Linked DNA regions of Homo sapiens. The protein of the gene in region 5 interacts with the protein of the main gene of each other region in a biochemical or structural test. Each region holds a gene or a part of one and is shown on either strand. Other genes may lie near its edges.

Region 1 (3,500 bases), on a different chromosome or scaffold from region 5:
AAACATAATCCCTAGCCTTAATGGATATATTTCAGTAGGACATAAACATAAATAGGTACCACAAGCTATTAGAAATATGATAGAAATAAATATATGGTACAGGGGAGGCAGAGTAGAAGTAGTCACTTCTACCATAGGCCAAAAGGTTTACTAGGGGAGATTAAAACTGACAGTGAGTCTTATAATGTGAGTAGAAGTTGCTTGGAGAGGATGGGATAGGAGAAAAAATTATTTTCCAGCAAAATATCATGTAATTTATTTAAAATACAAAAATAGCCCAGTGAGACTTTTGGTATAAAACTTGAAGGAAATCTTTATTTTTCTAATTTATCTCTTCCCCCTAATTTTAAAAAATCTTTAAAGGTTATCAACTGGCAAACATCTCTTCACATTCCACCACAAGCTAAACTCAGTCCTGAAGCTTCTGATCTTATTATTAAACTTTGCCGAGGACCCGAAGATCGCTTAGGCAAGAATGGTGCTGATGAAATAAAAGCTCATCCATTTTTTAAAACAATTGACTTCTCCAGTGACCTGAGACAGCAGTCTGCTTCATACATTCCTAAAATCACACACCCAACAGATACATCAAATTTTGATCCTGTTGATCCTGATAAATTATGGAGTGATGATAACGAGGAAGAAAATGTAAATGACACTCTCAATGGATGGTATAAAAATGGAAAGCATCCTGAACATGCATTCTATGAATTTACCTTCCGAAGGTTTTTTGATGACAATGGCTACCCATATAATTATCCGAAGCCTATTGAATATGAATACATTAATTCACAAGGCTCAGAGCAGCAGTCGGATGAAGATGATCAAAACACAGGCTCAGAGATTAAAAATCGCGATCTAGTATATGTTTAACACACTAGTAAATAAATGTAATGAGGATTTGTAAAAGGGCCTGAAATGCGAGGTGTTTTGAGGTTCTGAGAGTAAAATTATGCAAATATGACAGAGCTATATATGTGTGCTCTGTGTACAATATTTTATTTTCCTAAATTATGGGAAATCCTTTTAAAATGTTAATTTATTCCAGCCGTTTAAATCAGTATTTAGAAAAAAATTGTTATAAGGAAAGTAAATTATGAACTGAATATTATAGTCAGTTCTTGGTACTTAAAGTACTTAAAATAAGTAGTGCTTTGTTTAAAAGGAGAAACCTGGTATCTATTTGTATATATGCTAAATAATTTTAAAATACAAGAGTTTTTGAAATTTTTTTGAAAGACAGTTTTAGTTTTATCTTGCTTTAACCAAATATGAAACATACCCCCTATTTTACAGAGCTCTTTTTTCCCCTCATAACCTTGTTTTTGGTAGAAAATAAGCTAGAGAAATTAAGCCATCGTGTTGGTGAGTGTTCCTAGGCTAATGATAATCTGTATAATTCACATCCTGAAACTAAGGAATACAGGGTTGAAAAAATATTAATATGTTTGTCAGAAGGAAAAATAATGCATTTATCTTCCCCCCCACCCCCCGCCCCATGGAATATTTAATCTATTTAATCTTCTTGCATTTATTTCTCAAGAATTACTGGCTTTAAAAGAAGCCAAAGCACTACTAGCTTTTTTTCCATATTGGTATTTTTGATGCTGCTTCCAATTTTAAAAGGGAACAAAGCTGCCATAAATCGAAATGTTCAATACTAAAAGCTAAAATATTTCTCACCATCCTAAGCAGATAATTATTTTAATTTTCATATACTTTTCCTGTATAGTAACTATTTTGATTATATCATCAATGTTACCTGTTTCCTCTTTCAGAACAGTGCTGCATATACAGATTGTTATTGGCAAAGGAAAATCTGGCTATCTGGCAATATTTTACCTAAGCGCAGATTAATTGGTGAAAAAATTAACTCTTAAGATGGCCATTAATAATTAGGAAAGTTTACAGAGTGGTCTTAGTAGAAAATTCAAGTCCTCCTAATTTATTTAAGGTTCAATAATGCGTTCAACATGCCTGTTATGTATAACGCTTAGGTTCTAAGGAAGATTAAGGTTTCATACCAAAATACATGTAGCTTATCTTTTAGGAAGGGGAAAAAGGCTCCATTTTGACCATAGTAAAATTTGTGTTGTGTTTTATTTCCTTTTCTTAAGCTCCACTGATAAGGGATTGTTTTTATCAAAAGTTACTATTTGTAGATTGGAGGCATAATTTTAGTGATTTTCATACTTTTAGCTTTCTTCGCATAAAAGCTAATTGAAACCGTATATGTAGTAAAATTAAAGGCAGAGCTGTTGCAGTTGAATTGGAGAGTTAGGGCAAAGAACACTTATTAGCCCACACTTCCCACCTTTCTACAGGTGGTCCTTTCAGAGCTCAGCCTGAAAACCCACTACTGTGTTATCGTGCGTCTTTTGGGGTTAGTGGTTCTTTTGAGAATCTGAAGGAAGCTGTGGACTCTTCCTAGAAAAAAAAACCACACATACACATACAATGTTGCATGCAGTTTCAAGGGATTTTGGACATATTGAAACCTATCACAGGCTGTAGGTTATGGACCTCTGTGCCATGAGAAAATTGATACATTAAACTAAGAACTTTGTTTTTAACTTACCAATCACTACTCAGCACATCTTATATAAGCTGATAATTTGTGATGGAAAAGGTCTGTAGCATGTGATATAAGGTGACCTTATGAATGCCTCTCTTGCTGGTACATTAAGTTGTTTTAATATATCATTTGGAGGGGACTGAAATGTTAGGCTCATTACAAGCTTGATACAGAAATATTTCTGAAGGATTTCTAATCAGAATTGTAAAACAATGTGCTATCATGAAATCGCAGTCTTCACCTCATGGTTCATGGAACATTTGGTTAGTCCCATAAAATCCTATGCAAAACAAAGTAGTTCAAGAATTTTTAGGTGGGTAGTCACATTTATAAGGTATTCCTCTTACTCTTTGGGCTTTTTCAGTCTGATTTATTTAAATTTTCATTTAGTTGTTTTACTTTTGGACTAAGGTGCAATACAGTAGAAGATAACTTTGTTACATTTATGTTGTAGGAAAACTAAGGTGCTGTCTCCTCCCCCTTCCCTTCCCACAAAATCTGTATTCCCCCTATTGCTGAAATGTAACAGACACTACAAATTTTGTATTCTTTTTTTGTTTTTTGTTTTGAGACAGGGTCTCACTCTGTCACCCAGGCTGGAGGGCAGTGGCGCTTCACAGCTCACTGCATCCTCAACCTTGGGGGCTCACGCAGTCCTCCCGCCTCAGCCTCCCAAGTAGCTGGGCATGCGCCACCAAGCCCAGCTAATTTTTGTATCTTTAGTAGAGATGGGGTTTCGCCATGTTGCCCAGGTTGGTGTGGAATTCCTGGGCTCCAGTTATATGCCCACCTCAGCCTCCCAAAGTGCTGGGATTACAGACGTGACCCACCGCGCCTGGCGCAAATATGTATTCTTTTAAAATTTCCTCTGATACTATAAGCTTTTTGCATTTATCTGAAGCAGTATACATGCCTTTGGTATCAG
Region 2 (3,338 bases), on a different chromosome or scaffold from region 5:
GAGGGTGGAAGGCACCACAATGTGGATGACTCATCAACATGGAAAACTCTTAAAAACATACTGCCAAGTGAGACAAGAGAGTACACGCTGTACAGTTCCATTCACAGAAAGTCCAAAAACAGGTAAAACGAAACTGCAGTGTTCAAGGATACGTGCAAGGGTGGTAACTATCCAGTGAGGCAAAGCTTTTCTTTGTTATGGTGATGGCCAAAGAAGTCAGGAGAGTGACTACCCCTGGGGCAGTGAGGCATTTGGGAGCAGGAAGGGACATCTGAGGAGGAAGTTCTAGGGTATCAGCAATCTCCTATTTGATGATCTAGATGGCAGTGACATGGATATTTACTCTAGTATTATTTGCTATGTCATGCATTTGTTTCATGTACTTTGAACGTTATGTCTTAGCACTTTTTTTTTTTTTTGAGACGGAGTCTTGCTCTGTCGCCCAGGCTGGAGTGCAGTGGCGTGATCTCGTTTCACTGCAACCTCCACCCCCCAGGGTTCAAGTGATTCTCCTGTCTCAGCCACCTCACTAGCTGGGACTACAGGCATGTGCCACCATGCCCACTTAATTTTTCTATTTTTAGTAGAGACACGGTTTCACCACATTGGTCAGGCTGGTCTCGAACTCCTCACCTCAGGTGATCCACCCATCTGGGCCTCCCAAAGTGCTGGGTTTACAGGCTCGAGCCACCACGCCCGGCTGTCTTAGTACTTATTAAAATTCCAAAACAAAACATGAAAGAGAAAAAAAAAGAGGACTGAGGACCGGCAACCTGCTTGGCAACTCACCCAGGCTTGTGCACAATGTCCCTCAGCACCCGCACAGCGTCATCGTTGCTCATGTTCTCAAAGTTCATGTCATTCACCTGGAAGCGACGGCAAGTGGGTCAGAGACACGGTGGGAGAGGCTGAGGGCCCCCGTGCAGGGCAGCTCAGTGGCCCTACCCCAGCACACCTGCAAAAGCATGTCCCCTGGCTCAATGCGCCCGTCGGCCGCCACAGCCCCACCCTTCATGATGGAGCCAATGTAGATGCCTCCGTCTCCCCGCTCATTGCTCTGGCCAACAATGGAGATACCCAGGAAGTTGTACTTCTCTGTGGAGAGAGGCCATGTGAAAAGAGGAGCCCCTGCCACAGGACGCCCGGAACCCTAGAGACCAGGCCCTCCCCACGCCCTAGCCACAGGCTCTCCCCATACCCATGTTTAGCGTGACTGTGATGATATTGAGAGACATTGTGGAATCTGTGACGCTGCTGAAGGATGACGTCTGTGGTGGGAAAAGGAGCCAGAGTGCCCTTCAATAACCCAGGGTCAACCCTGGGGTGCTGCCGGTGTCCTGGCACCGCCCAAACCAAAGCCCATGCCCCACCTTCTCCCAGCACCAGCCTTCCTGTAGGAACCCCTCACCCTCTCCAGGCGGGGTGGCCTCTGCTTCCTTCGCCGCCGGTGGCGCTTAAGGAGGCGGGAGGCACTGCTCTGCTCCGTGGAGCTGCTGAACCTACCAGGAGGTTGGGAAGGAGAGCAAACGTAGGCCAAAGTGGTCATGGGGCCAAGAGAAAGAACAAGAGGATTGACTGGAAGACGAGACGGGGCTGGGTGCGCTGGGGAGAGCTGTGCGGAGCCACACCTGCTCATGGTGTCCTCCTCGTCCGAGTCCCCCAGGCTGGTACTCTCCAGCTCGCTGGTCATGAGGGTAGAGGAGCTCTCGTATCCGGCCAGGTGGCGCTCCAGCCTTGAGGGGCCACCAGTCCTGTGGCCCCCAGCTACATATGGACAGGAAGCTCAAGAACCAAGCTTCCCCCTGCTCACCCCACCAAGGCTGGGGTCTGGCCCAGCCCTTCCCGGCCCCCAGGCCTGCCCCTCACCGCCATGCTCACTGCTGTCTCTCCTGCGAGGCCGCTCCCGCCTCAGTGACACTACTGACTCGGTTTCTGTCTCAGGCTCCAGATTCTCATGGCTGCTGGACACATTAGGGCTGGACAGGCAGAGATGGTTTCCAACCCACATCAGGAGAACAGGGCTCCGGATCCTAGGCGTCCCCTACCAAAGGCCTGGGTTCCCTCCTCACCTCCCTCCCCTGCAGTCAAGAATCTGAAGGACTCACTGGAAGGATGGAGGCCTTGAGTCCCCAATGCCGCTGGTCCTCTCGGGTGGCAAAGGAGGTAAAGGTGGGGCTGGAGGCGCCAGTTCTGCCCGAGGCTCATGGACTGGAGGGGCCATCTCGGGTTGGGGATTATCTGAGGACACCAGCTAGAAGGGTGCAAATGATAAACAGTGGCTCACTTGGGAGTCAGGGTGTGACAGGTGGCAGTAAGTGAAAGAATGAGAAAGGGTCTCAGAGAGCTGGAGAAGAGCAAAAAAACCTAGCAAGTATTAGAGACTCCAGAAGGAGAAGGCTGAGGGCCTCTCGCCGGCTCTCCAAACAGACAGGAGGTAAAGAGCCAGGGCTGCTAACGCGCGGCCTGGGGAGGATACAGAAACAGACTGAGGCTTGAGGGAGCTTGGCAATGCTGAGGGGGCCTGGTCCTCGGTGTCAGAACCTCTTACCCAGGATACCACCCTTCCGTTGAAGCAGGGGAGGCGGGCGTTGTCATCTGAAATTTCTTCCTTCACCACCCTGCCAAGCGACAAGGTAGAGGTCAGTGAGCTGGACCAACCATCCCCACCCCGACCCCCATCAAACTTTCTCCCAATCTTCACCTGGCTCCAGGATGTTGACTTTCTCCTGCCCTGTTCAGGTCTTCTCTTACATTGAAAGAACTCACTCCGACACCTAAGAAATCTCCAAACTCAATCCCCTTTCCTTATTTCTCCTCTCCCTAACGCACCCTCAGGGGCACAGTGCTGCTCCAAAGACTTCCTTGAGTCTGACTCAAACCTCTTAGTCCAGTTTCAAAAGCAATCCCGCACGCTGATGCGGCTGCCTGAGATACCTATCTAATGAGACTGGCTGGTGGCCTCCTCTCAACCCCACCCCTGTTCCTTACAAACCTTCCAAAAAGGTCAGGCACGGTGGCTCACACCTGTAATCCCAGCACTTTGGGAGGCTGAGGCGGGCGGATCACCTGAGGTCAGGAGTTCAAGACCAGCCTGGCCAGCATGGTGAAACCCCATCTCTACTAAAATACAAAAATTAGCCGGGCATGATGGTGGGTGTCTATAATCCCAGCTACTCAGGAGGCTGAGATGGGAGAGTCGCTTGAACCCGGGAGACAGTGGTTGCAGTAAGTCGAGATCGCGCCACTGCATTCCAGCCTGGGCGGCTCAAAAAAAAAAAAAAAAAAAACCTTCCAAAAAAGGCTTTGGTCCTCATCAAAGCCTCTACTCTTATACTTTC
Region 3 (3,500 bases), on a different chromosome or scaffold from region 5:
CCCTGGGAAATTCACCCAGCCTGACCTGAAGCAGTTGCTGAGAGGCAGAGGAGCAGCTCCAGGTGTTTTGGCAGGGAAGCAGCTGGCAGCTGTGCGGGAGCCCCTTGCCTCCCGTGTTCTTACTGAGGAGTGTGTGGGGCAGCTCGGGACAGGTTTCACTTTGGACAGTGGTTGGAGGCTGCTTACTCTGGCAGAGTCATCTCAAAGAGCCTTGGTGTATGTGCAAAACGGGGCCATCTGCATGGGCGTTGGGAAGATCACAGAACCTGGACCCTTAGGATGACCCAAGGGTCAGTTGCATACTGTTTGTTTTTGTGGAGTCAATGTCCCATGACGGTTTTCGCGATGCTTTGCTAGTAGGAGCAGTGGCGTGTGAGGCTCCCGGTTAAATACCATGAGATTCTAAGCGGAATTCTGGGTCTCCTGGTATGCACAGGTAAAATTACAGTAGACCTGTCCCACTCTTTGCCAGAACCTCGTACTTGTCTGCAGTTTGACTGGAATAAGGGGTGTTTGTGTTCCACCTCCCTCCAACGTGTGTTGAGACATTTATTTATTTATTTATTTATTTACGTTGCTCTTGTTACCCAGGCTGGAGTGCAGTGGTGCAATCTCAGCTGCTCACCGCAACCTCTGCCTCCCTGGTTCAAGTGATTCTTCTGCCTCAGACTCCCGAGTAGCTGGGACTACAGGCACGCGCCACCAGGCCTGGCTAATTTTGTATTTTTAGTAGAGACGGGGTTTCTCCGTGTTGGTCAGGCGGGCCTGGAACTCCGAACCTCAGGTGATCCGCCCGCCTCAGCCTCTTAAAGTGCTGGGATTACAGGCGTGAGCCACTGTGCCTGGCCCCAAGACATTGATTTTATTTGAGATGAGGTCTCACTTTGTCACCCAGACTGGAGTGCAGTGGTACAATCTTGGCTCACTGCAACTCCTTCCTCCGGGGCTCCCACCACAGCCTCCTGAGTGACTGGGACCAGGGGCACGCGCCACCACACCCAGCTAATCTTTGGTAGTTTTGGTAGAGATGGGGTTTCACCGTGTTACCTAGGCTGCTGTCACACTTCTGGCCTCAAGCAATCCGCTCGCCTTGGCCCCCCAAAGTGTTGGGATTACAGGCGTGAGCCACTGCGCCCAGCTGTGTCGAGACATTTAATATTTGTCAATCTGATGGATTGAAATGGTAGGTCATTTGGGCTTTCCCTGCAAGCTCCACCTTCCGGGTTCACGCCATTCTCCTGCCTCAGCCTCCTGAGTAGCTGGGACTACAGGCGCCCGCCACCACACCCGGCTAATTTTTTGTATTTTTAGTAGAGACGGGGGTTTCACCGTGTCAGCCAGGATGATCTCGATCTCCTGACCTCGTGATCTGCCCGCCTCGGCCTCCCACAGTGCTGGGATTACAGGCTGAGCCACTGCGCCCGGCCGGGTTTTCTGTAATTTCTAGTGAGGTTGGACATCTGTTCCAGTTACCTACTGCTACGTAAAAGTCGCGGTCACCTCAAGTCAGACACCATTCTTAAAACAGTTAACACAACCATTTTATTATATCTCACAGCGTTGTGGGTTAGGAATCTGGACAGTGAGGGCAGGGTTAATCTTCAGTTCTGTGCCACCAGCTGGGATCACTTGAGGGTGCTTGGCTGGCATACGGGTTAGTCTGGGGACCACTGCCCCCTTTCCGGCATCCTCTGTGGGTTCCAGCATTTTTCTTTTTTTTTTCTTTTTGAGATGAAGTCTCGCTCTGTCACCCAGGCTAAAGTGCATTTGTGCGATCTCAGCTCACTGCAACCTCTGCCTCCTGGGTTTAAGTGATCCTCATGCCTCAGCCTCCCAAGTAGCTGGGATTACAGGCGTGTGCCACCATGCCTGGCTAATTTTTGTATTTTTTTTTTGAGATGGAGTTTCACTCTTGTTGCTCAGGCTGGAGTGCAGTGGCGCGATCTCGGCTCACTGCAACCTCCGCCTCCCAGGTTCAAGCGATTCTCCTGCCTCAGCCTCCCTGGTAGCTGGGATTACAGGCATGTGCCACCATGCCCAGCTAATTTCGTATTTCTAGTAGAGATGGGGTTTCTCCATGTCGGTCAGGCTGGTCTGGAACTCCTGACCTCAGGTGATCTGCCTGCCTTGGCCTCCCGAAGTGCTGGGATTACAGGCATGAGCCACCGTGCCCGGCCTTTTTTGTATTTTTAGTAGAGATGGGGTTTCACCATGTCAGCCAGGCTGGTCTTGAACTCCTGACCTCAAGTGATCCACCCGCCTTGGCCTCCCACAGTGCTGGGATTACAGGTGTGAGCCACTGCACCCAGCTGGGTCCCAGCATTTGCGGGATTCAAGGTGGGGATGTGCAGTCTGTCAGGAGTGTTAAAAGCACGGCAGCATTTCCAGTCCCCAGGCCTCCTCTCCTTGCTTCAGCCACGCCCACCCTCCTCTGTGCCTGCTCATGCCCATGTGCTTCTGTTGGGCTGTCTGCTGGTCCACAGGAGGATTACTGGTGTTCCGGATTTTCAGCATGAACACAGTATGGGGTCTGGCCCGAGGAGGGCCTGGCTAACAGAGCATGGATTCAAAATCAGAGCAGAGCTGGGTACCGTGGCTCATGCCTGTAATCCCAACACTTTGGGAGGCTGAGGCAGGTGGATTGCTTGAGCTTAGGAGTTTGAGACCAGCCTGGACAGCATGGCAAAACCCTGTCTCTATAAGAAAAACAAAAAACAAAAAACAAAACCCAGGTGTGGTGGCACGTGCCTGTAGTCCTAGCTACTTGCGGGGCTGAGATGGGTGGATCGCTTGAACACAGGAGGTTAAGGCTGCAGTGAGCCGAGATCGTGCCACTGCACACTAGCCTGGGCGGCGGGAGTGAGACCGTGTCTCAAAAACAACAACAACAACAACAACAACAAAAAAACAAAAAATGGACCGAGGTTGGGGTGGCAAGGCTGGGCTGGAATGGAGGCTGAGGACAGGCCCTGGCAGCGCCCGGGGGTAGAGGGCGTGCAGCAGGAAGCAAGGGCCACCCTCAGGGATGGGGGACTGGGCCTGGCAGCTGCCGAGGGGTAGGCAGGATGCATGTGGAGAGCCACGTGGGGCTGCGGCTGAGCCAAGGATTGTGAGAGGAATCCTGCTGCTCTGGGTGGCAGGCAGAAGGCCTGGGCCACAGGTGGGGCCTGCTGGGGAGACCACAGGTGAGGCAGGTATGGCTGACCCTGGGCGCTCGGCACACCGGTACTCCTCCTGCCTGGCTGCTCCCTCAGCAGGTGTCAGAGTCTGAGTCACCTTTTCCTCACGTGACCCCCACCAGGACCAGGCAGGGAGGTGGCCATCTTTGGCCCTGACTCAGCCCTGCAGGGAGAAGAGGGGCTGGAGGTGCAGGTGGCCTGCCACTGTCTCCCCCAACCCCTGCCCACCTGGGTCTTGTGCTGTGTGTACTTCTGCTGCGTCTGTCCTCCCTTGTGACCAGCTTCTGCTGGACCTGATTGTCCAGCCATGATCTTCTGATC
Region 4 (3,500 bases), on a different chromosome or scaffold from region 5:
CAGGCGTGAGCCACCACACCCAGCCTAAATATATTTTTATTTTTATTTTTATTTTATTTTATTTTTGAGGTGGAGTCTTGCTCTGTAGCCCAGGCTGGAGTGCAGTGGCGCAATCTTGGCTCACTGCAACCTCCACCTCCTAGGTTCCAGCAATTCTCCTGCCTCAGCCTCCCGAGTAGCTGGGACCACAGGCATGTGCCACCACACCTGGCTAATTTTTGTATTCTTAGTAGAGACGGGGTTTCACCATGTTGGCCAGGCTGGTCTTGAACTCCTGACCTCAGGTGACCCACCTGCCTCGGTGTCCCACAATTCTGGGATTACAGGTGTGAGCCACTGCTCCCAGCCTTATTTTTATTTTTTTAAAGATGGGGTCTTACTATGTTGGCCAGGTTGGTCTTGAACTCCTGGGCTCAAGCAGTTCTCCCACCTCGACTTCTGAAAGTGTTGAAATTACAGGTGTGAGCCACTGTGCCCCGCCATTTATTTTCATAATATACCTTCAAGCAACTTATTAGAATAACTTGATTCAAAGCCTCAATTTAATGGTTCCTTTTTAAGGTACTTTGCTAGCCCAGGATAAAAGTATAAACTGAATGGCTATTTCTTGATTCTTCCCTGGAACCCTTAAATAAATAGAAGTAAATGTTGCAGATATACTATACTTATGGTACATTCTTTGAGACTTTTTGTTCCTGTTTCTAAAGGGATCAGGTTCTTCTGAGGATGACAGCACTAGGGATGGGAACTGTAATGGTAAAACCATAGTTCTCAGTAGTGTTTGAATGAATGTGACCTTTGTGGATAGCTAGTGCAGGACATAGGTATGCAAAATGATGAGACCCAGCTTTACTGATGCTAAGATTTTCTCAGACTAATGCCATCATCATCCTTTTTAACCCCAAAGGAGGAGTTGATAATTTCATATTTAAGCTATTGATATTTATGTTTCTTGGAATGATGATCATTGATTTTTAAGTTGCTTTCATCACGTGTTTCCATAATATTCTGTTCTTACCTCTTCATAGTATATATCATTCTATATAAGGTAATGGTATGGTTACTGATTTCTTTCCTCCACCAGACAGTGTACTCCTTGAGGAAAGGTGCTGTGACCTTTTTCTTTGAGGAAAAGGACTGTATGCATTGTGTCTGCATTGCAGTGCCTTAGATGTGATAGGCACTCAGTTTGTTGAATGAGAAAGATGCTGATCTTCATATTCTGTATAGTTCTAGAATTACTATAATATCTTCTCTCAATAAAAATCCCAAATCTTACGAAAGCATTTATTTATTTATGTATACAAGGTAACAATTCCAAACAGTACTACAAGAATACACAGAAAAGTAACTCTTTCTACCTGTTACCCAGATTTCCACAAATTGTCTTCTGTAGATCCACCCTCTGTTAGTAGTTTCTTGAGTATCTGTTTAGAGATAATCTGTGGATAAATATTTATTTATACATGTATATCCTTTTCACTTTATTTTCCACAAAAATAGATGCAGAGGACTCTGGGGATGTACCATATTTTATTTAATCAGTCCCTTATTGATGGTTATTTAGGTTGATACTTAGTTTTTTCTCTTACAAATACTATTTCTGTGAACACTCTTGTATACACTTCTTTGGGAATACATGCCATTATATATGTTGTAGGATAAATCTGTGCAAGTAGAATTACTGCTTCAAAGGATATTTGCATTTAAAATGTTGGTAGCTAATGCCAAAGTGTCATTCAAAGAATGGTTCCAACCTTTATTCCCACCAACCTGTTAAGGTACCTTTTCCCTTATATCTTTACCAACACAGTATATTAGTGAACTAATACATTGTTTAGCAAATTGTTCTTTTAAATTTGAGTCATTTTTCATAGGCTTAGGTGTCAAATTTTTTCTGATCACAGCTTTTGCCTATTCTTTTGGGTTTTTGGTCTCATGTATGTAGATTCACTTAATCTGCATTGTAAGGAAACTAGCCTTTTGTCATATGTCTTGAAAACTTTTTATTGATTTGTTATTTGTATTTTGACCATATGGTATGTTTTTCTGTTTAGAAATTTTTATGTAGTCAGATTTATCATTTTCTTTTATGACTTTGAGTCATAAAAGTGAAAAAAGTCATTGAGTTTTATGTAATCCTTAGAAAATCCTTCTTGAGGATCATAAAAATTTTCCCCCATGTTTACTCCTAGTAAGTACTTTTATACTTTTTATGATTTCATTTTAACATTTAATTATTTGATTTATTTGCAGTTTGTTTTGTTCTAGAGAGTGAAGTAGTGAAATAATTTTATATTTCAAGATTATTTCCCATTTGTTCCAATACCTTTTATTTTGAATTATCCTTCTTAACCACTTTGAAGTACCATTTTTGTCATATTCTTGTAGTATGGGTGAAATATTTCCTCTGCTTTTCCATTTATCTGTCAGTTCACACAGAAGTATCAGACTGTTGTGCTATAATTTTTAAATACTAGCTAAACGGCTTTTCCATAAATATTTTTCTTGGCTATCTTATGTGTGTATAATTTTCTACTTCATCTTAAAATTTTTTTTATCTTGTCCCCTCTCCCTCTGTTGGAGTTTTAGTAGGTTGCATTACATTTATGGATTAATTTTGGGGAGAATTGAAATACATTCGGTGTTGATATTGTGTATTTTTCCATAAACACGTGGTTTTTATTAACATGTATTTAAAAAAAATTTAGCATATAATTAGGTGAACTAGAGACTTTTAAAAATAAATATTCTAGCCTCCTTGTAACATACTGAATTATACAGGTATTTGGCTCTCTCTTTTCAATTGATAATTGACTGAGAAAGAAAGCTAAGTCTTCCTGCTTTTTCATTTCCAAAAAAAAAAAAAAATTGTGTTGAGAAAGAAAGAAATATTCTCTGTACTCTTGTATTAGGAGCTATAGCTGCCAAATACTGGATTTTTTTTTTTTAAAGCAGTCTCTTTACATAGGTGGCCCTCTACTTTTCAAAAATAATTATTTCTTTAATAGCTTGTTTTTCTCATTGATGGAATTGTTACCACAGATACAGAAAGTTTATAAAGTTTTGTTGTTCAAGAGTTTGGAGTTGCTGCTTATATTGGTGGTCTCTTGGAAGTTCAATATTAAGAAAAAAATTAATATATTCCTTTTTTTTTTTAACTAGGCCTAGGGCTGAGTAAGAGGACAAGAAAGATGAATAGAGGTTGTACTTATGAGAGGTATAGGTAGCAGATGAAGGAAAAAATACAGGCCCTTAGTTGTAAAGAATTTTCTGCTCTTAAAACCAGAGGAGTTTTGTGATTGGCCTTACAGGACATATTTACAGATCTGTGAACTGCTTTTGTGGAAAGAGAGAAGCTTACTTAAGGATTCCAGGTCTGCCTACGTGTTCTTTCTCCCCAACTTTGTAGGTTGATTTATAAACTCGCCTAAATGGAAGGTGCCATTATTGAGTTCATTTATCTCAGTGCCCTGACAACCGTAGATGGAGGTGACCTA
Region 5 (2,229 bases):
TGTTTTTGTTTCTGTTCAGTTTTAATCGCTTGGATCTACCACCATATAAGAGTTATGAACAACTAAAGGAAAAACTTCTTTTTGCAATAGAAGAGACAGAGGGATTTGGACAAGAATGAATGTGGCTTCTTATTTTGGAGGAGCTCTTGCATTTAAATACCCCAGCCAAGAAAAATTGCACAGATAGTGTATATAAGCTGTTCATTCTGTACAGTGAATTTTCCGAACCTCTCAAAGTATGTTTTCCGTTCTTCCACAGAAATATGCAAAACAGTTCATCCTTTTCTACTTTATTTATTGTTCCCTTGAAATGACTGACCAGGAAAAAGATCATCCTTAAATTTTGAAGCAAGTGAGAGACTTTATTAAAAATACATATATATCTATATAAACATATATGATAGTGGCTCTAGTTTTATAGAGCTCCAAGTGTATTAAACATGACAGCCATTCATTCATAAAGATCTGGATTTGCTTTACCTTGTTAATATTATCTAGGGGAAAAAGTGCAAATTGCTCCATGTTCTTCTCTCCCTTATGTAACATCTCCTGAGGGTGTTTAGTTGCATGGCTGTTCAGAAAGGTATTAAGGGCTTAGGCCAAATCTTACTTTGAGTATGTTAAAAAAAAAAAAATGCTGCTGGCTTTTCTGAAGACAGGTGCTTGAACTTGTCAGTTTGTTTTAAATAAATACAATAGTTGAAAATTTTTCTCTGTTACATCAGTAATATTGTTAAAGTAATGGATAGAACCATAACTTACACATGAAAGTCATATACTAGATCCAATACTATTTAGTTTATTATCGAAATTGGAAGGATTCATTGAGCAGCATAGAAGTTTGTTTACATGTTACTTTGAGATGCTAGGTATTTGTGGAATTAAAAAGAATCAGGCTCTTTTGTACTTTGTTTTTAAATCTGTGATGCTTTTCAAATTTAATTCATAATAAATTGATGCAATTTCATACTTAGGAACATACAAAAGGTAATGTAAACTCTGCCACTTTTTTGTGTTCAAAATTTTGGTTTTTATGAAGCCAGATGGATTGAAGAGTTACATAAGCATTTGAATGCTCTAATATAAGGCTAATGATTTTCTGTTAGTGTTTGAATATCTTCATTCCTCTCAAATTCATAACAGTTCTATTTAACTGAATTAAATAACCATATGAAAAATCTTTTGGGTCTCCCCCTTTTTACACAGATAATTATTTTTGTCATAACACTTTTTAATTGTTTTTCATCATAGGGGCCTTTGCTGAACTACAAAAATGTGTAACAAATTAAAATCTGATGTGAATGATATTAATGCTACTTTTAGCAAACTGGGCTTCCTAATACAAAATTTTAAATTTCCATTTGTATCATGCTTTTAATATGCACTGTAAATTTCATTAACTTAAACATTTTTTAATAGCCATGGAACTGACTTCTTAAAATCTGTTGCCTATAAATATTTCACTGCTAAGTACATACAGAAAAACAGTAATTATTGTTTTGCCAAAATTTTATTTTTCTACATATTGAGAGTGTGTTCTCCATTTTATTCAGAATTCATAGTAAAGACGAAAGAAAGGCAGAGATCTGCTTGGTTGAATAGACTCCTTTTCCAAATCCTTATTATGAACACTCTGGTAATTTTCAAGCCTAAAGAATTAAAAAAAAAATTCTAATGTATGTGACAGGTTATGTGATAGAGGGAAACTGGCCTTCAAAAAGGACTGCGTATACCATAAAAGAGTTAAGTATTAGAATTACAAATGGTACCACTGCTGTATAAATTTTGCCATGACAGAAGTTATTGAATATCATTCATTGTAGGTATGATTTAGCAGATTTGACTGAAGAAGGCAGCTTTCCAGTTCGTTTTCAGGGTGCTGGTCTCCCTCAAGTAAGAAATTACGATGCACTAGGTGAGGCTACACAGAACCCTACAAGAGACAAAACCAGCTTTGTTTTGGAGAATTCATCAGGGTCTTCCACTTTTCATACCCAATTATAGATATCCAAGACCTACAGGCAGAGCTCTTGATTTATCTACCCAGTAGCAGTCAGAAAAACTGTAGAAATATGGTCCCCCACTCACCTTCTCCCCTTCTTCCCTTCCCATTCCTGTTCTGTGCTGGACTAACCGAAAGAAATTAGGAGTGCAAGACTCTCTGTGCCCAAAACACAGTTCATGAGGAAACAGACAAGAGGGAGGCTCAGAGACAGGTTTATATTGCTA
Region 6 (3,337 bases), on a different chromosome or scaffold from region 5:
CAGCTGGGGACGAAACACAGTAGCTTTGCAAATATAAAGTGGGAGCACAACCTAGCACTGGCGTTGGAGGTCCTCAAAACAGTCCCCAGGTTTGGTGATTCAATAGGAGGGCTCTTAGGACTTAGTATATAATCTTACTCACATCTATGATTTGTTACAGCAAAGAATCAAAGCAAAATCAGCTAAGGGGAAAGGTGCTTTGGTCTAAAGGGAACTAAGCACAAGCTTCCAAGAGTTATCTCCTAGTGGAGTCACACAGGACATGCTTAATTCCTTCAACATATATGAAAGGTTTTCTGCCAGAGAAGCTCATTTGGAGACTCAGTGCCCCAGGTACTGATTAGGCACCCACTGCCTAGCATATGACAAAATTCCTGATTCTCAGAGGGGAAGCAGGTGTTGAACATAAACCATATAGTGTTCGCAGATAGGGAATGGTGGGAACCACCCCCAAATCCATATCTTTTTTTGTTGTTAAGATGGAGTCTCTCTCTGTTGCCCAGGCTAGAGTACAGTGGCAAGATCTTGGCTCACTGCAACCTCTGCCTCCCGGGTTAAAGCAGTTCTCTTGCCTCAGCTTACTGAGTAGCTGGGATTACAGGCGTGCACCACCACGCCCAGCTAATTTTAGTATTTTTAGTAGAGATGGTGTTTTACCATGTTGGCCAGGCTGGTCTCGAACTCCTGACCTCAGGTGATACGCCTGCCTCGGCCTTTCAAAGTTCTGGGATTACACGCATGAGCTACCATGCCCAGCCATCACATCTTTTAAAATTGTTGTTTTTATACCCCTGTCTAATCTTCTACTCACTCAGTGTCTGTTAGCCAACAATTGAATCAGGATTCCATTTTGCTGCCTAGAAAATCAGTGGCTGTCTAGTTATGAAACAATTGATAACTCAGATATCAAGCCATTTTAAAACAAGTATCATGGGAATTAAAATTTAAAATTAGGCATGTGTGGTAAGAAGGGTGAGGCCACATTCATCTTTAAAATATCAGGAGGTCTTAGTCATTTCCTTTCCTCTATGGTTTTCTGAACCATGTAAACTGAAATTAGATTGTTCAATCATTTTAAATATCTAAAAGATATAGAGAGGGTTCCTTTGTTTTAACAAAAAAATACCAAAGGAGAAAATACACTCATAACGTGAATTAAAATATAGTTTTTATTTTCTTCTTTAATGTTTATTAATGTTTCCCCGTAAAGTAGAACTTTCCTTTTCTGTTCTGCTTTCTGTGTTCTCTACACGTATGTGAACCACAAGACTGAAGAAATCTAGCCTCTGAAAAACCCATAGTTGGAGTTTATTTTCTCTAAAACAATTTAGTTATTTTTGTTTGTTAGGTTCAAGGATTTAAGAGACCCTTTATATTATCTTAGTCTTAAACCAATTTGTTCCCAGTTTGCGTGTGGATGACAGCTCATCAAAACTGGTCAACTAGGACTGAGGCTAAGATTCAGGAAGGTAATTTAGACTGGAAATGGTAATTCAAGGGTTGAAGAACTCAGAGCTGGCAGAGATCACAACAGAGTCCAAGAGTTTGTAGTATTCAAAGAGAAGCCAGAAAGCCAGGACCAAAGCCAAGGACAGTAGCACTTAGCTTAAAGTCTGCAAAGCAGAGAATCATGATGGGGAGAATCATGACGTTGGGGAGATGTTAGAATAATTTACAAATATTGGCATTTACAAAGCTCTTAGTTATCTCATGATTATATCAACTCTTTAAAGTGGGTACTGTTATCTGCTTTATTCAAAGACATTAAGAGACTTGGTCCAAGCAATCACAGTAAGTAGCCGAGCTGAGACTGAAATCTTATAATTTAATTCTTCAGACTGAAAATCTCATCTTCTGAGATAGTAGTGTTTTTCAGACTGCTCTGTTGATTCTGAGGATTCTGCAAAGGTAACCAAGGTGAGGGCTTGGGGATGGGGAGCCTCATCCCTTCTAGGCCACACTCCATCCCAGCTTCATTCCATCAGAGTTGCTCAGTTTTAAATATTATTATAGGCCAGGCACCATGGCTCAACCCTGTGGCCCCACTACTCAGGAGGCTGAGGTTGGAGGATTGCTTGAGCCCAGGGGGTTGAGTTTACAGTAAGTTGTGTTTGTGCCACTGCACTTAAGCCTGGGCAACAGAGGGAGACCCTATCTCAAAAAAAGGTGGGGGTTATACACACGATTCCTTTGAATTGTTTTGTTGTGTAAAAAATCAGTTGGATTAGGAGCAGCAGAATTCTAATTTCAGTATTGTCAATTAGTGACTGTAGGCAAGCTTGGTCCTATGAAATGGGAAAGTTAGTCTTAGATAACTTTTAGATTTATTTTTGCCATAGTCCAGTCCATTTAAAAAGTTTTAAAAATTATTTTTAGAGATGAGGTCTTGCTATGTTGTCCAGGCTGGTCTCTTATCATGTGGAAATAGTTCATTTAACATTCCATGCCAGTTCAGTGAAGTCTGTGTTTATATCCTTTAGGCAGAATGAGAATGTTTTGGTGTGTGTATGTTTTATTCTAGTAGCTGAAGTTAAGGCAGGGTGAAACACAGTCATACAGCCAAACACTAGCCCAGCTTCCTACCCCTCCCAGGGCTCCCTTTCCCTTCTATCTCTGACCAAAAAATAAGCCCTCGAAAGGTTTTTAAAAAATAATCTTTTTCCTCTATATTTTAATATTTTAGGAACAAGTTCCAGTTCCAGTCTACCACCCAACACCTAGCCAGACTCGGCTAGCAACTCAGCTGACTGAAGAGGAACAAATTAGGATAGCTCAAAGAATAGGTCTTATACAACATCTGCCTAAAGGAGTTTATGACCCTGGAAGAGATGGATCAGAAAAAAAGATCCGGGAGTAAGTTTTAATTAATTTGTACATTTCAAAGTTTTATTTTCAGATTGCTTTTGAAAAATTTGCCTTTTCTCCTGCACTTTAGAAAGTCAGACATTTAATATATTGAAACACTTCGCTTAATGCAAGAGAATGTTTAATTTTTTTTCATAGCTCTATTACTGGCTACTAGCAAGAGAATGTTATGTAGTAATTAAGAATTTTCACAGGCCGAGCACAGTGGCTTATGCCTGTAATCCCAGCACTTTGGGAGGCTGAGGTCGGGGGATCACTTGAGGCCAGGAGTTCGAGACCAACCTGGCCAACATGGTGAAACCTCATCTCTACTGAAAATACGAAAATTAGCCAGGCATGGTGGCACGCGCCTGTAATCCCAACCACTTGGGAGGCTGAGGTGGGAGAATCACTTGAAACTCTGTCTCAAAAAGTAAAATAAAGTAAAATAAGAGAAAGTTAGTGTTAATGAAGAGAGCTTTAACTTACAGCA
Region 7 (3,500 bases), on a different chromosome or scaffold from region 5:
AGGAGATAGAAATTCTGATTCTGGCCTCGTTGGCTTCTTGTTTTATTATAAACATTTTTGACCCACTTACTCTTTTTTTCATAAGACAATGGTGATCCACAAATACTTGTTGTGAGAAATCATGAAAACAAATCTGTGGGTTTTTTTGTTCTAGACAAAGAAGCTAACCATTATGTATAACCTTGGTCTGATTAATATTTTCCAGAAACTAGAGGTTAGCTGATATTTTTTTATTCCTTTAGAATACCTGAATCCAGTGGAGGAGAACCCTTTTGTTTCTCGGAGAAAAAATGGAGACCTTCAAGCATTGGATAATCCCGAATATCACAATGCATCCAATGGTCCACCCAAGGCCGAGGATGAGTATGTGAATGAGCCACTGTACCTCAACACCTTTGCCAACACCTTGGGAAAAGCTGAGTACCTGAAGAACAACATACTGTCAATGCCAGAGAAGGCCAAGAAAGCGTTTGACAACCCTGACTACTGGAACCACAGCCTGCCACCTCGGAGCACCCTTCAGCACCCAGACTACCTGCAGGAGTACAGCACAAAATATTTTTATAAACAGAATGGGCGGATCCGGCCTATTGTGGCAGAGAATCCTGAATACCTCTCTGAGTTCTCCCTGAAGCCAGGCACTGTGCTGCCGCCTCCACCTTACAGACACCGGAATACTGTGGTGTAAGCTCAGTTGTGGTTTTTTAGGTGGAGAGACACACCTGCTCCAATTTCCCCACCCCCCTCTCTTTCTCTGGTGGTCTTCCTTCTACCCCAAGGCCAGTAGTTTTGACACTTCCCAGTGGAAGATACAGAGATGCAATGATAGTTATGTGCTTACCTAACTTGAACATTAGAGGGAAAGACTGAAAGAGAAAGATAGGAGGAACCACAATGTTTCTTCATTTCTCTGCATGGGTTGGTCAGGAGAATGAAACAGCTAGAGAAGGACCAGAAAATGTAAGGCAATGCTGCCTACTATCAAACTAGCTGTCACTTTTTTTCTTTTTCTTTTTCTTTCTTTGTTTCTTTCTTCCTCTTCTTTTTTTTTTTTTTTTTTAAAGCAGATGGTTGAAACACCCATGCTATCTGTTCCTATCTGCAGGAACTGATGTGTGCATATTTAGCATCCCTGGAAATCATAATAAAGTTTCCATTAGAACAAAAGAATAACATTTTCTATAACATATGATGGTGTCTGAAATTGAGAATCCAGTTTCTTTCCCCAGCAGTTTCTGTCCTAGCAAGTAAGAATGGCCAACTCAACTTTCATAATTTAAAAATCTCCATTAAAGTTATAACTAGTAATTATGTTTTCAACACTTTTTGGTTTTTTTCATTTTGTTTTGCTCTGACCGATTCCTTTATATTTGCTCCCCTATTTTTGGCTTTAATTTCTAATTGCAAAGATGTTTACATCAAAGCTTCTTCACAGAATTTAAGCAAGAAATATTTTAATATAGTGAAATGGCCACTACTTTAAGTATACAATCTTTAAAATAAGAAAGGGAGGCTAATATTTTTCATGCTATCAAATTATCTTCACCCTCATCCTTTACATTTTTCAACATTTTTTTTTCTCCATAAATGACACTACTTGATAGGCCGTTGGTTGTCTGAAGAGTAGAAGGGAAACTAAGAGACAGTTCTCTGTGGTTCAGGAAAACTACTGATACTTTCAGGGGTGGCCCAATGAGGGAATCCATTGAACTGGAAGAAACACACTGGATTGGGTATGTCTACCTGGCAGATACTCAGAAATGTAGTTTGCACTTAAGCTGTAATTTTATTTGTTCTTTTTCTGAACTCCATTTTGGATTTTGAATCAAGCAATATGGAAGCAACCAGCAAATTAACTAATTTAAGTACATTTTTAAAAAAAGAGCTAAGATAAAGACTGTGGAAATGCCAAACCAAGCAAATTAGGAACCTTGCAACGGTATCCAGGGACTATGATGAGAGGCCAGCACATTATCTTCATATGTCACCTTTGCTACGCAAGGAAATTTGTTCAGTTCGTATACTTCGTAAGAAGGAATGCGAGTAAGGATTGGCTTGAATTCCATGGAATTTCTAGTATGAGACTATTTATATGAAGTAGAAGGTAACTCTTTGCACATAAATTGGTATAATAAAAAGAAAAACACAAACATTCAAAGCTTAGGGATAGGTCCTTGGGTCAAAAGTTGTAAATAAATGTGAAACATCTTCTCATGCAATTATTTTATTATCCAACACACTAATCTTTTGATACTTTATATAATTCCCTTTCTTCATATACTGCATCCAGTACTAGAACCATCATTATTATGTATCATTTTGAAAGAATACCTGATGAGATGAAGGATGAGAACAAATGACAGAGATGAGTCTCCAAGTAAAGGGGGCCTCACATCAATAATTAGGAAACTTAGATATAAGTCGCCCTTTTCTGAAAATTCTACCCCAAGTCATTTAGATTTTTAAAAAATATTTCTAATGTTAAAATATTGGGACCAAATTAGAATCAATAGTATAAGATTAATTAATTAGAGTAAAAATATCTATTAAGGCAGAGAAAGTTTAGAGAAAAAAATCCAAAGAAATTTGTGTTTCTTCCTATTCTGAACAAGTAAATCCATCCATCCATCCATCCAAACCTCCTTTATCTAACTGTGTCTACTAAAAGCACCATGTTTTGTGGGGAACACTCAGATAAATGGAATATCATCCTCAACTTCAAAATTCTATGATCTAGGAGATTTAATTAAAATGACATTTTAATTTTTCTATGCGTTCCAACAATCAGATTGCATAGTCTCTTTTGTGAATAGCTGTCATATAATCAGTTGTACTGTAAGATATCTCCTTTAAACTCATTTGGGATATAAGTTAAACATCCTTCAAATTGTTGATGTTGACAAACAGGATAATTTCAATAATATTATTCAAACATAAACTGGTCTAGGAGAATATTGCATCACTGACTAATTAGCCTATCTAGAGTCTAACTTCACCATTAAACCAAAAGCAGATGGTGGTCCTTGGCCAAGAATATTGGAGACATTGGAGTTGGTTTTTTTCTAAGCTATAAGAAGTGAGGCGAGCTGAAAAAGTATGGTAGAGCAGGAGAAGGGTTTGTGAGATTCCTTCTAGTGAAGTTCACCCTCAAACTTTTCAGGGGTAAAGACACAGAGTGATTCAGGGGCCACAATCTAATAGCTCAGGGCTCTCCTATCCATTCAGAGAAGTCTCTAGGAAAAGGGATCTCATATCAGTACTTATGAAAAATTGAATATAAGCCTCCCTTTCTAAATAAATCTGCATCGAGTCATCACAGCCCTCTTTTTGGATACTATACCTTGATTTTTTTTTTCTGATTTACAATATGCATATGGTTTCTACTGGGCTATAGAAAGCAGAATCACTCATTTTGGAGAAGGAAAAAATGAATAGTTAAAACAAACTTTTAACTGTTAAGGTAACAGAAATGTATTTAGTGAATGTCTCTTTCCTCCTAA

Evidence for each region.
Region 1: the proteins of WWP1 (region 5) and LATS1 interact in a test that uses a peptide from one of them, tested with the Homo sapiens proteins (one study listed by BioGRID).
Region 2: the proteins of WWP1 (region 5) and DVL2 form a complex in vitro, tested with the Homo sapiens proteins (2 studies listed by BioGRID, with this or other methods).
Region 3: the proteins of WWP1 (region 5) and ARRDC1 form a complex in vitro, tested with the Homo sapiens proteins (one study listed by BioGRID).
Region 4: the proteins of WWP1 (region 5) and RTN4 form a complex in vitro, tested with the Homo sapiens proteins (one study listed by BioGRID).
Region 6: the proteins of WWP1 (region 5) and RNF11 form a complex in vitro, tested with the Homo sapiens proteins (one study listed by BioGRID).
Region 7: the proteins of WWP1 (region 5) and ERBB4 form a complex in vitro, tested with the Homo sapiens proteins (one study listed by BioGRID).

Annotation. Positions count from the first base shown.
Region 1 is NC_000006.12:149,659,102-149,662,601, reverse strand, and holds part of LATS1 (serine/threonine-protein kinase LATS1), read left to right. Parts: intron 1-363; coding exon 364-873; 3' UTR 874-3,500. UniProt on the Homo sapiens protein: Negative regulator of YAP1 in the Hippo signaling pathway that plays a pivotal role in organ size control and tumor suppression by restricting proliferation and promoting apoptosis.
Region 2 is NC_000017.11:7,228,180-7,231,517, forward strand, and holds part of DVL2 (segment polarity protein dishevelled homolog DVL-2), read right to left. Parts: intron 3,016-3,338; exon of another isoform or gene 2,702-3,015; intron 2,619-2,701; coding exon 2,549-2,618; intron 2,252-2,548; coding exon 2,106-2,251; intron 1,977-2,105; coding exon 1,867-1,976; intron 1,765-1,866; coding exon 1,629-1,764; intron 1,500-1,628; coding exon 1,409-1,499; exon of another isoform or gene 1,371-1,408; intron 1,269-1,370; coding exon 1,199-1,268; intron 1,096-1,198; coding exon 956-1,095; intron 867-955; coding exon 790-866; intron 1-789.
Region 3 is NC_000009.12:137,608,686-137,612,185, forward strand, and holds part of ARRDC1 (arrestin domain-containing protein 1), read left to right. Parts: intron 1-3,500. UniProt on the Homo sapiens protein: Functions as an adapter recruiting ubiquitin-protein ligases to their specific substrates. Through an ubiquitination-dependent mechanism plays for instance a role in the incorporation of SLC11A2 into extracellular vesicles.
Region 4 is NC_000002.12:55,040,452-55,043,951, reverse strand, and holds part of RTN4 (reticulon-4), read left to right. Parts: intron 1-3,500. UniProt on the Homo sapiens protein: Required to induce the formation and stabilization of endoplasmic reticulum (ER) tubules. They regulate membrane morphogenesis in the ER by promoting tubular ER production.
Region 5 is NC_000008.11:86,466,775-86,469,003, forward strand, and holds the end of WWP1 (NEDD4-like E3 ubiquitin-protein ligase WWP1), read left to right. Parts: intron 1-19; coding exon 20-119; 3' UTR 120-1,729; downstream 1,730-2,229. Other genes in the region: RMDN1 (regulator of microtubule dynamics protein 1), read right to left, coding at 1,902-1,933. UniProt on the Homo sapiens protein: E3 ubiquitin-protein ligase which accepts ubiquitin from an E2 ubiquitin-conjugating enzyme in the form of a thioester and then directly transfers the ubiquitin to targeted substrates.
Region 6 is NC_000001.11:51,267,273-51,270,609, forward strand, and holds part of RNF11 (RING finger protein 11), read left to right. Parts: intron 1-2,683; coding exon 2,684-2,853; intron 2,854-3,337. UniProt on the Homo sapiens protein: Essential component of a ubiquitin-editing protein complex, comprising also TNFAIP3, ITCH and TAX1BP1, that ensures the transient nature of inflammatory signaling pathways. Promotes the association of TNFAIP3 to RIPK1 after TNF stimulation.
Region 7 is NC_000002.12:211,380,803-211,384,302, reverse strand, and holds part of ERBB4 (receptor tyrosine-protein kinase erbB-4 isoform JM-a/CYT-1 precursor), read left to right. Parts: intron 1-242; coding exon 243-688; 3' UTR 689-3,500. UniProt on the Homo sapiens protein: Tyrosine-protein kinase that plays an essential role as cell surface receptor for neuregulins and EGF family members and regulates development of the heart, the central nervous system and the mammary gland, gene transcription, cell proliferation, differentiation, migration and apoptosis.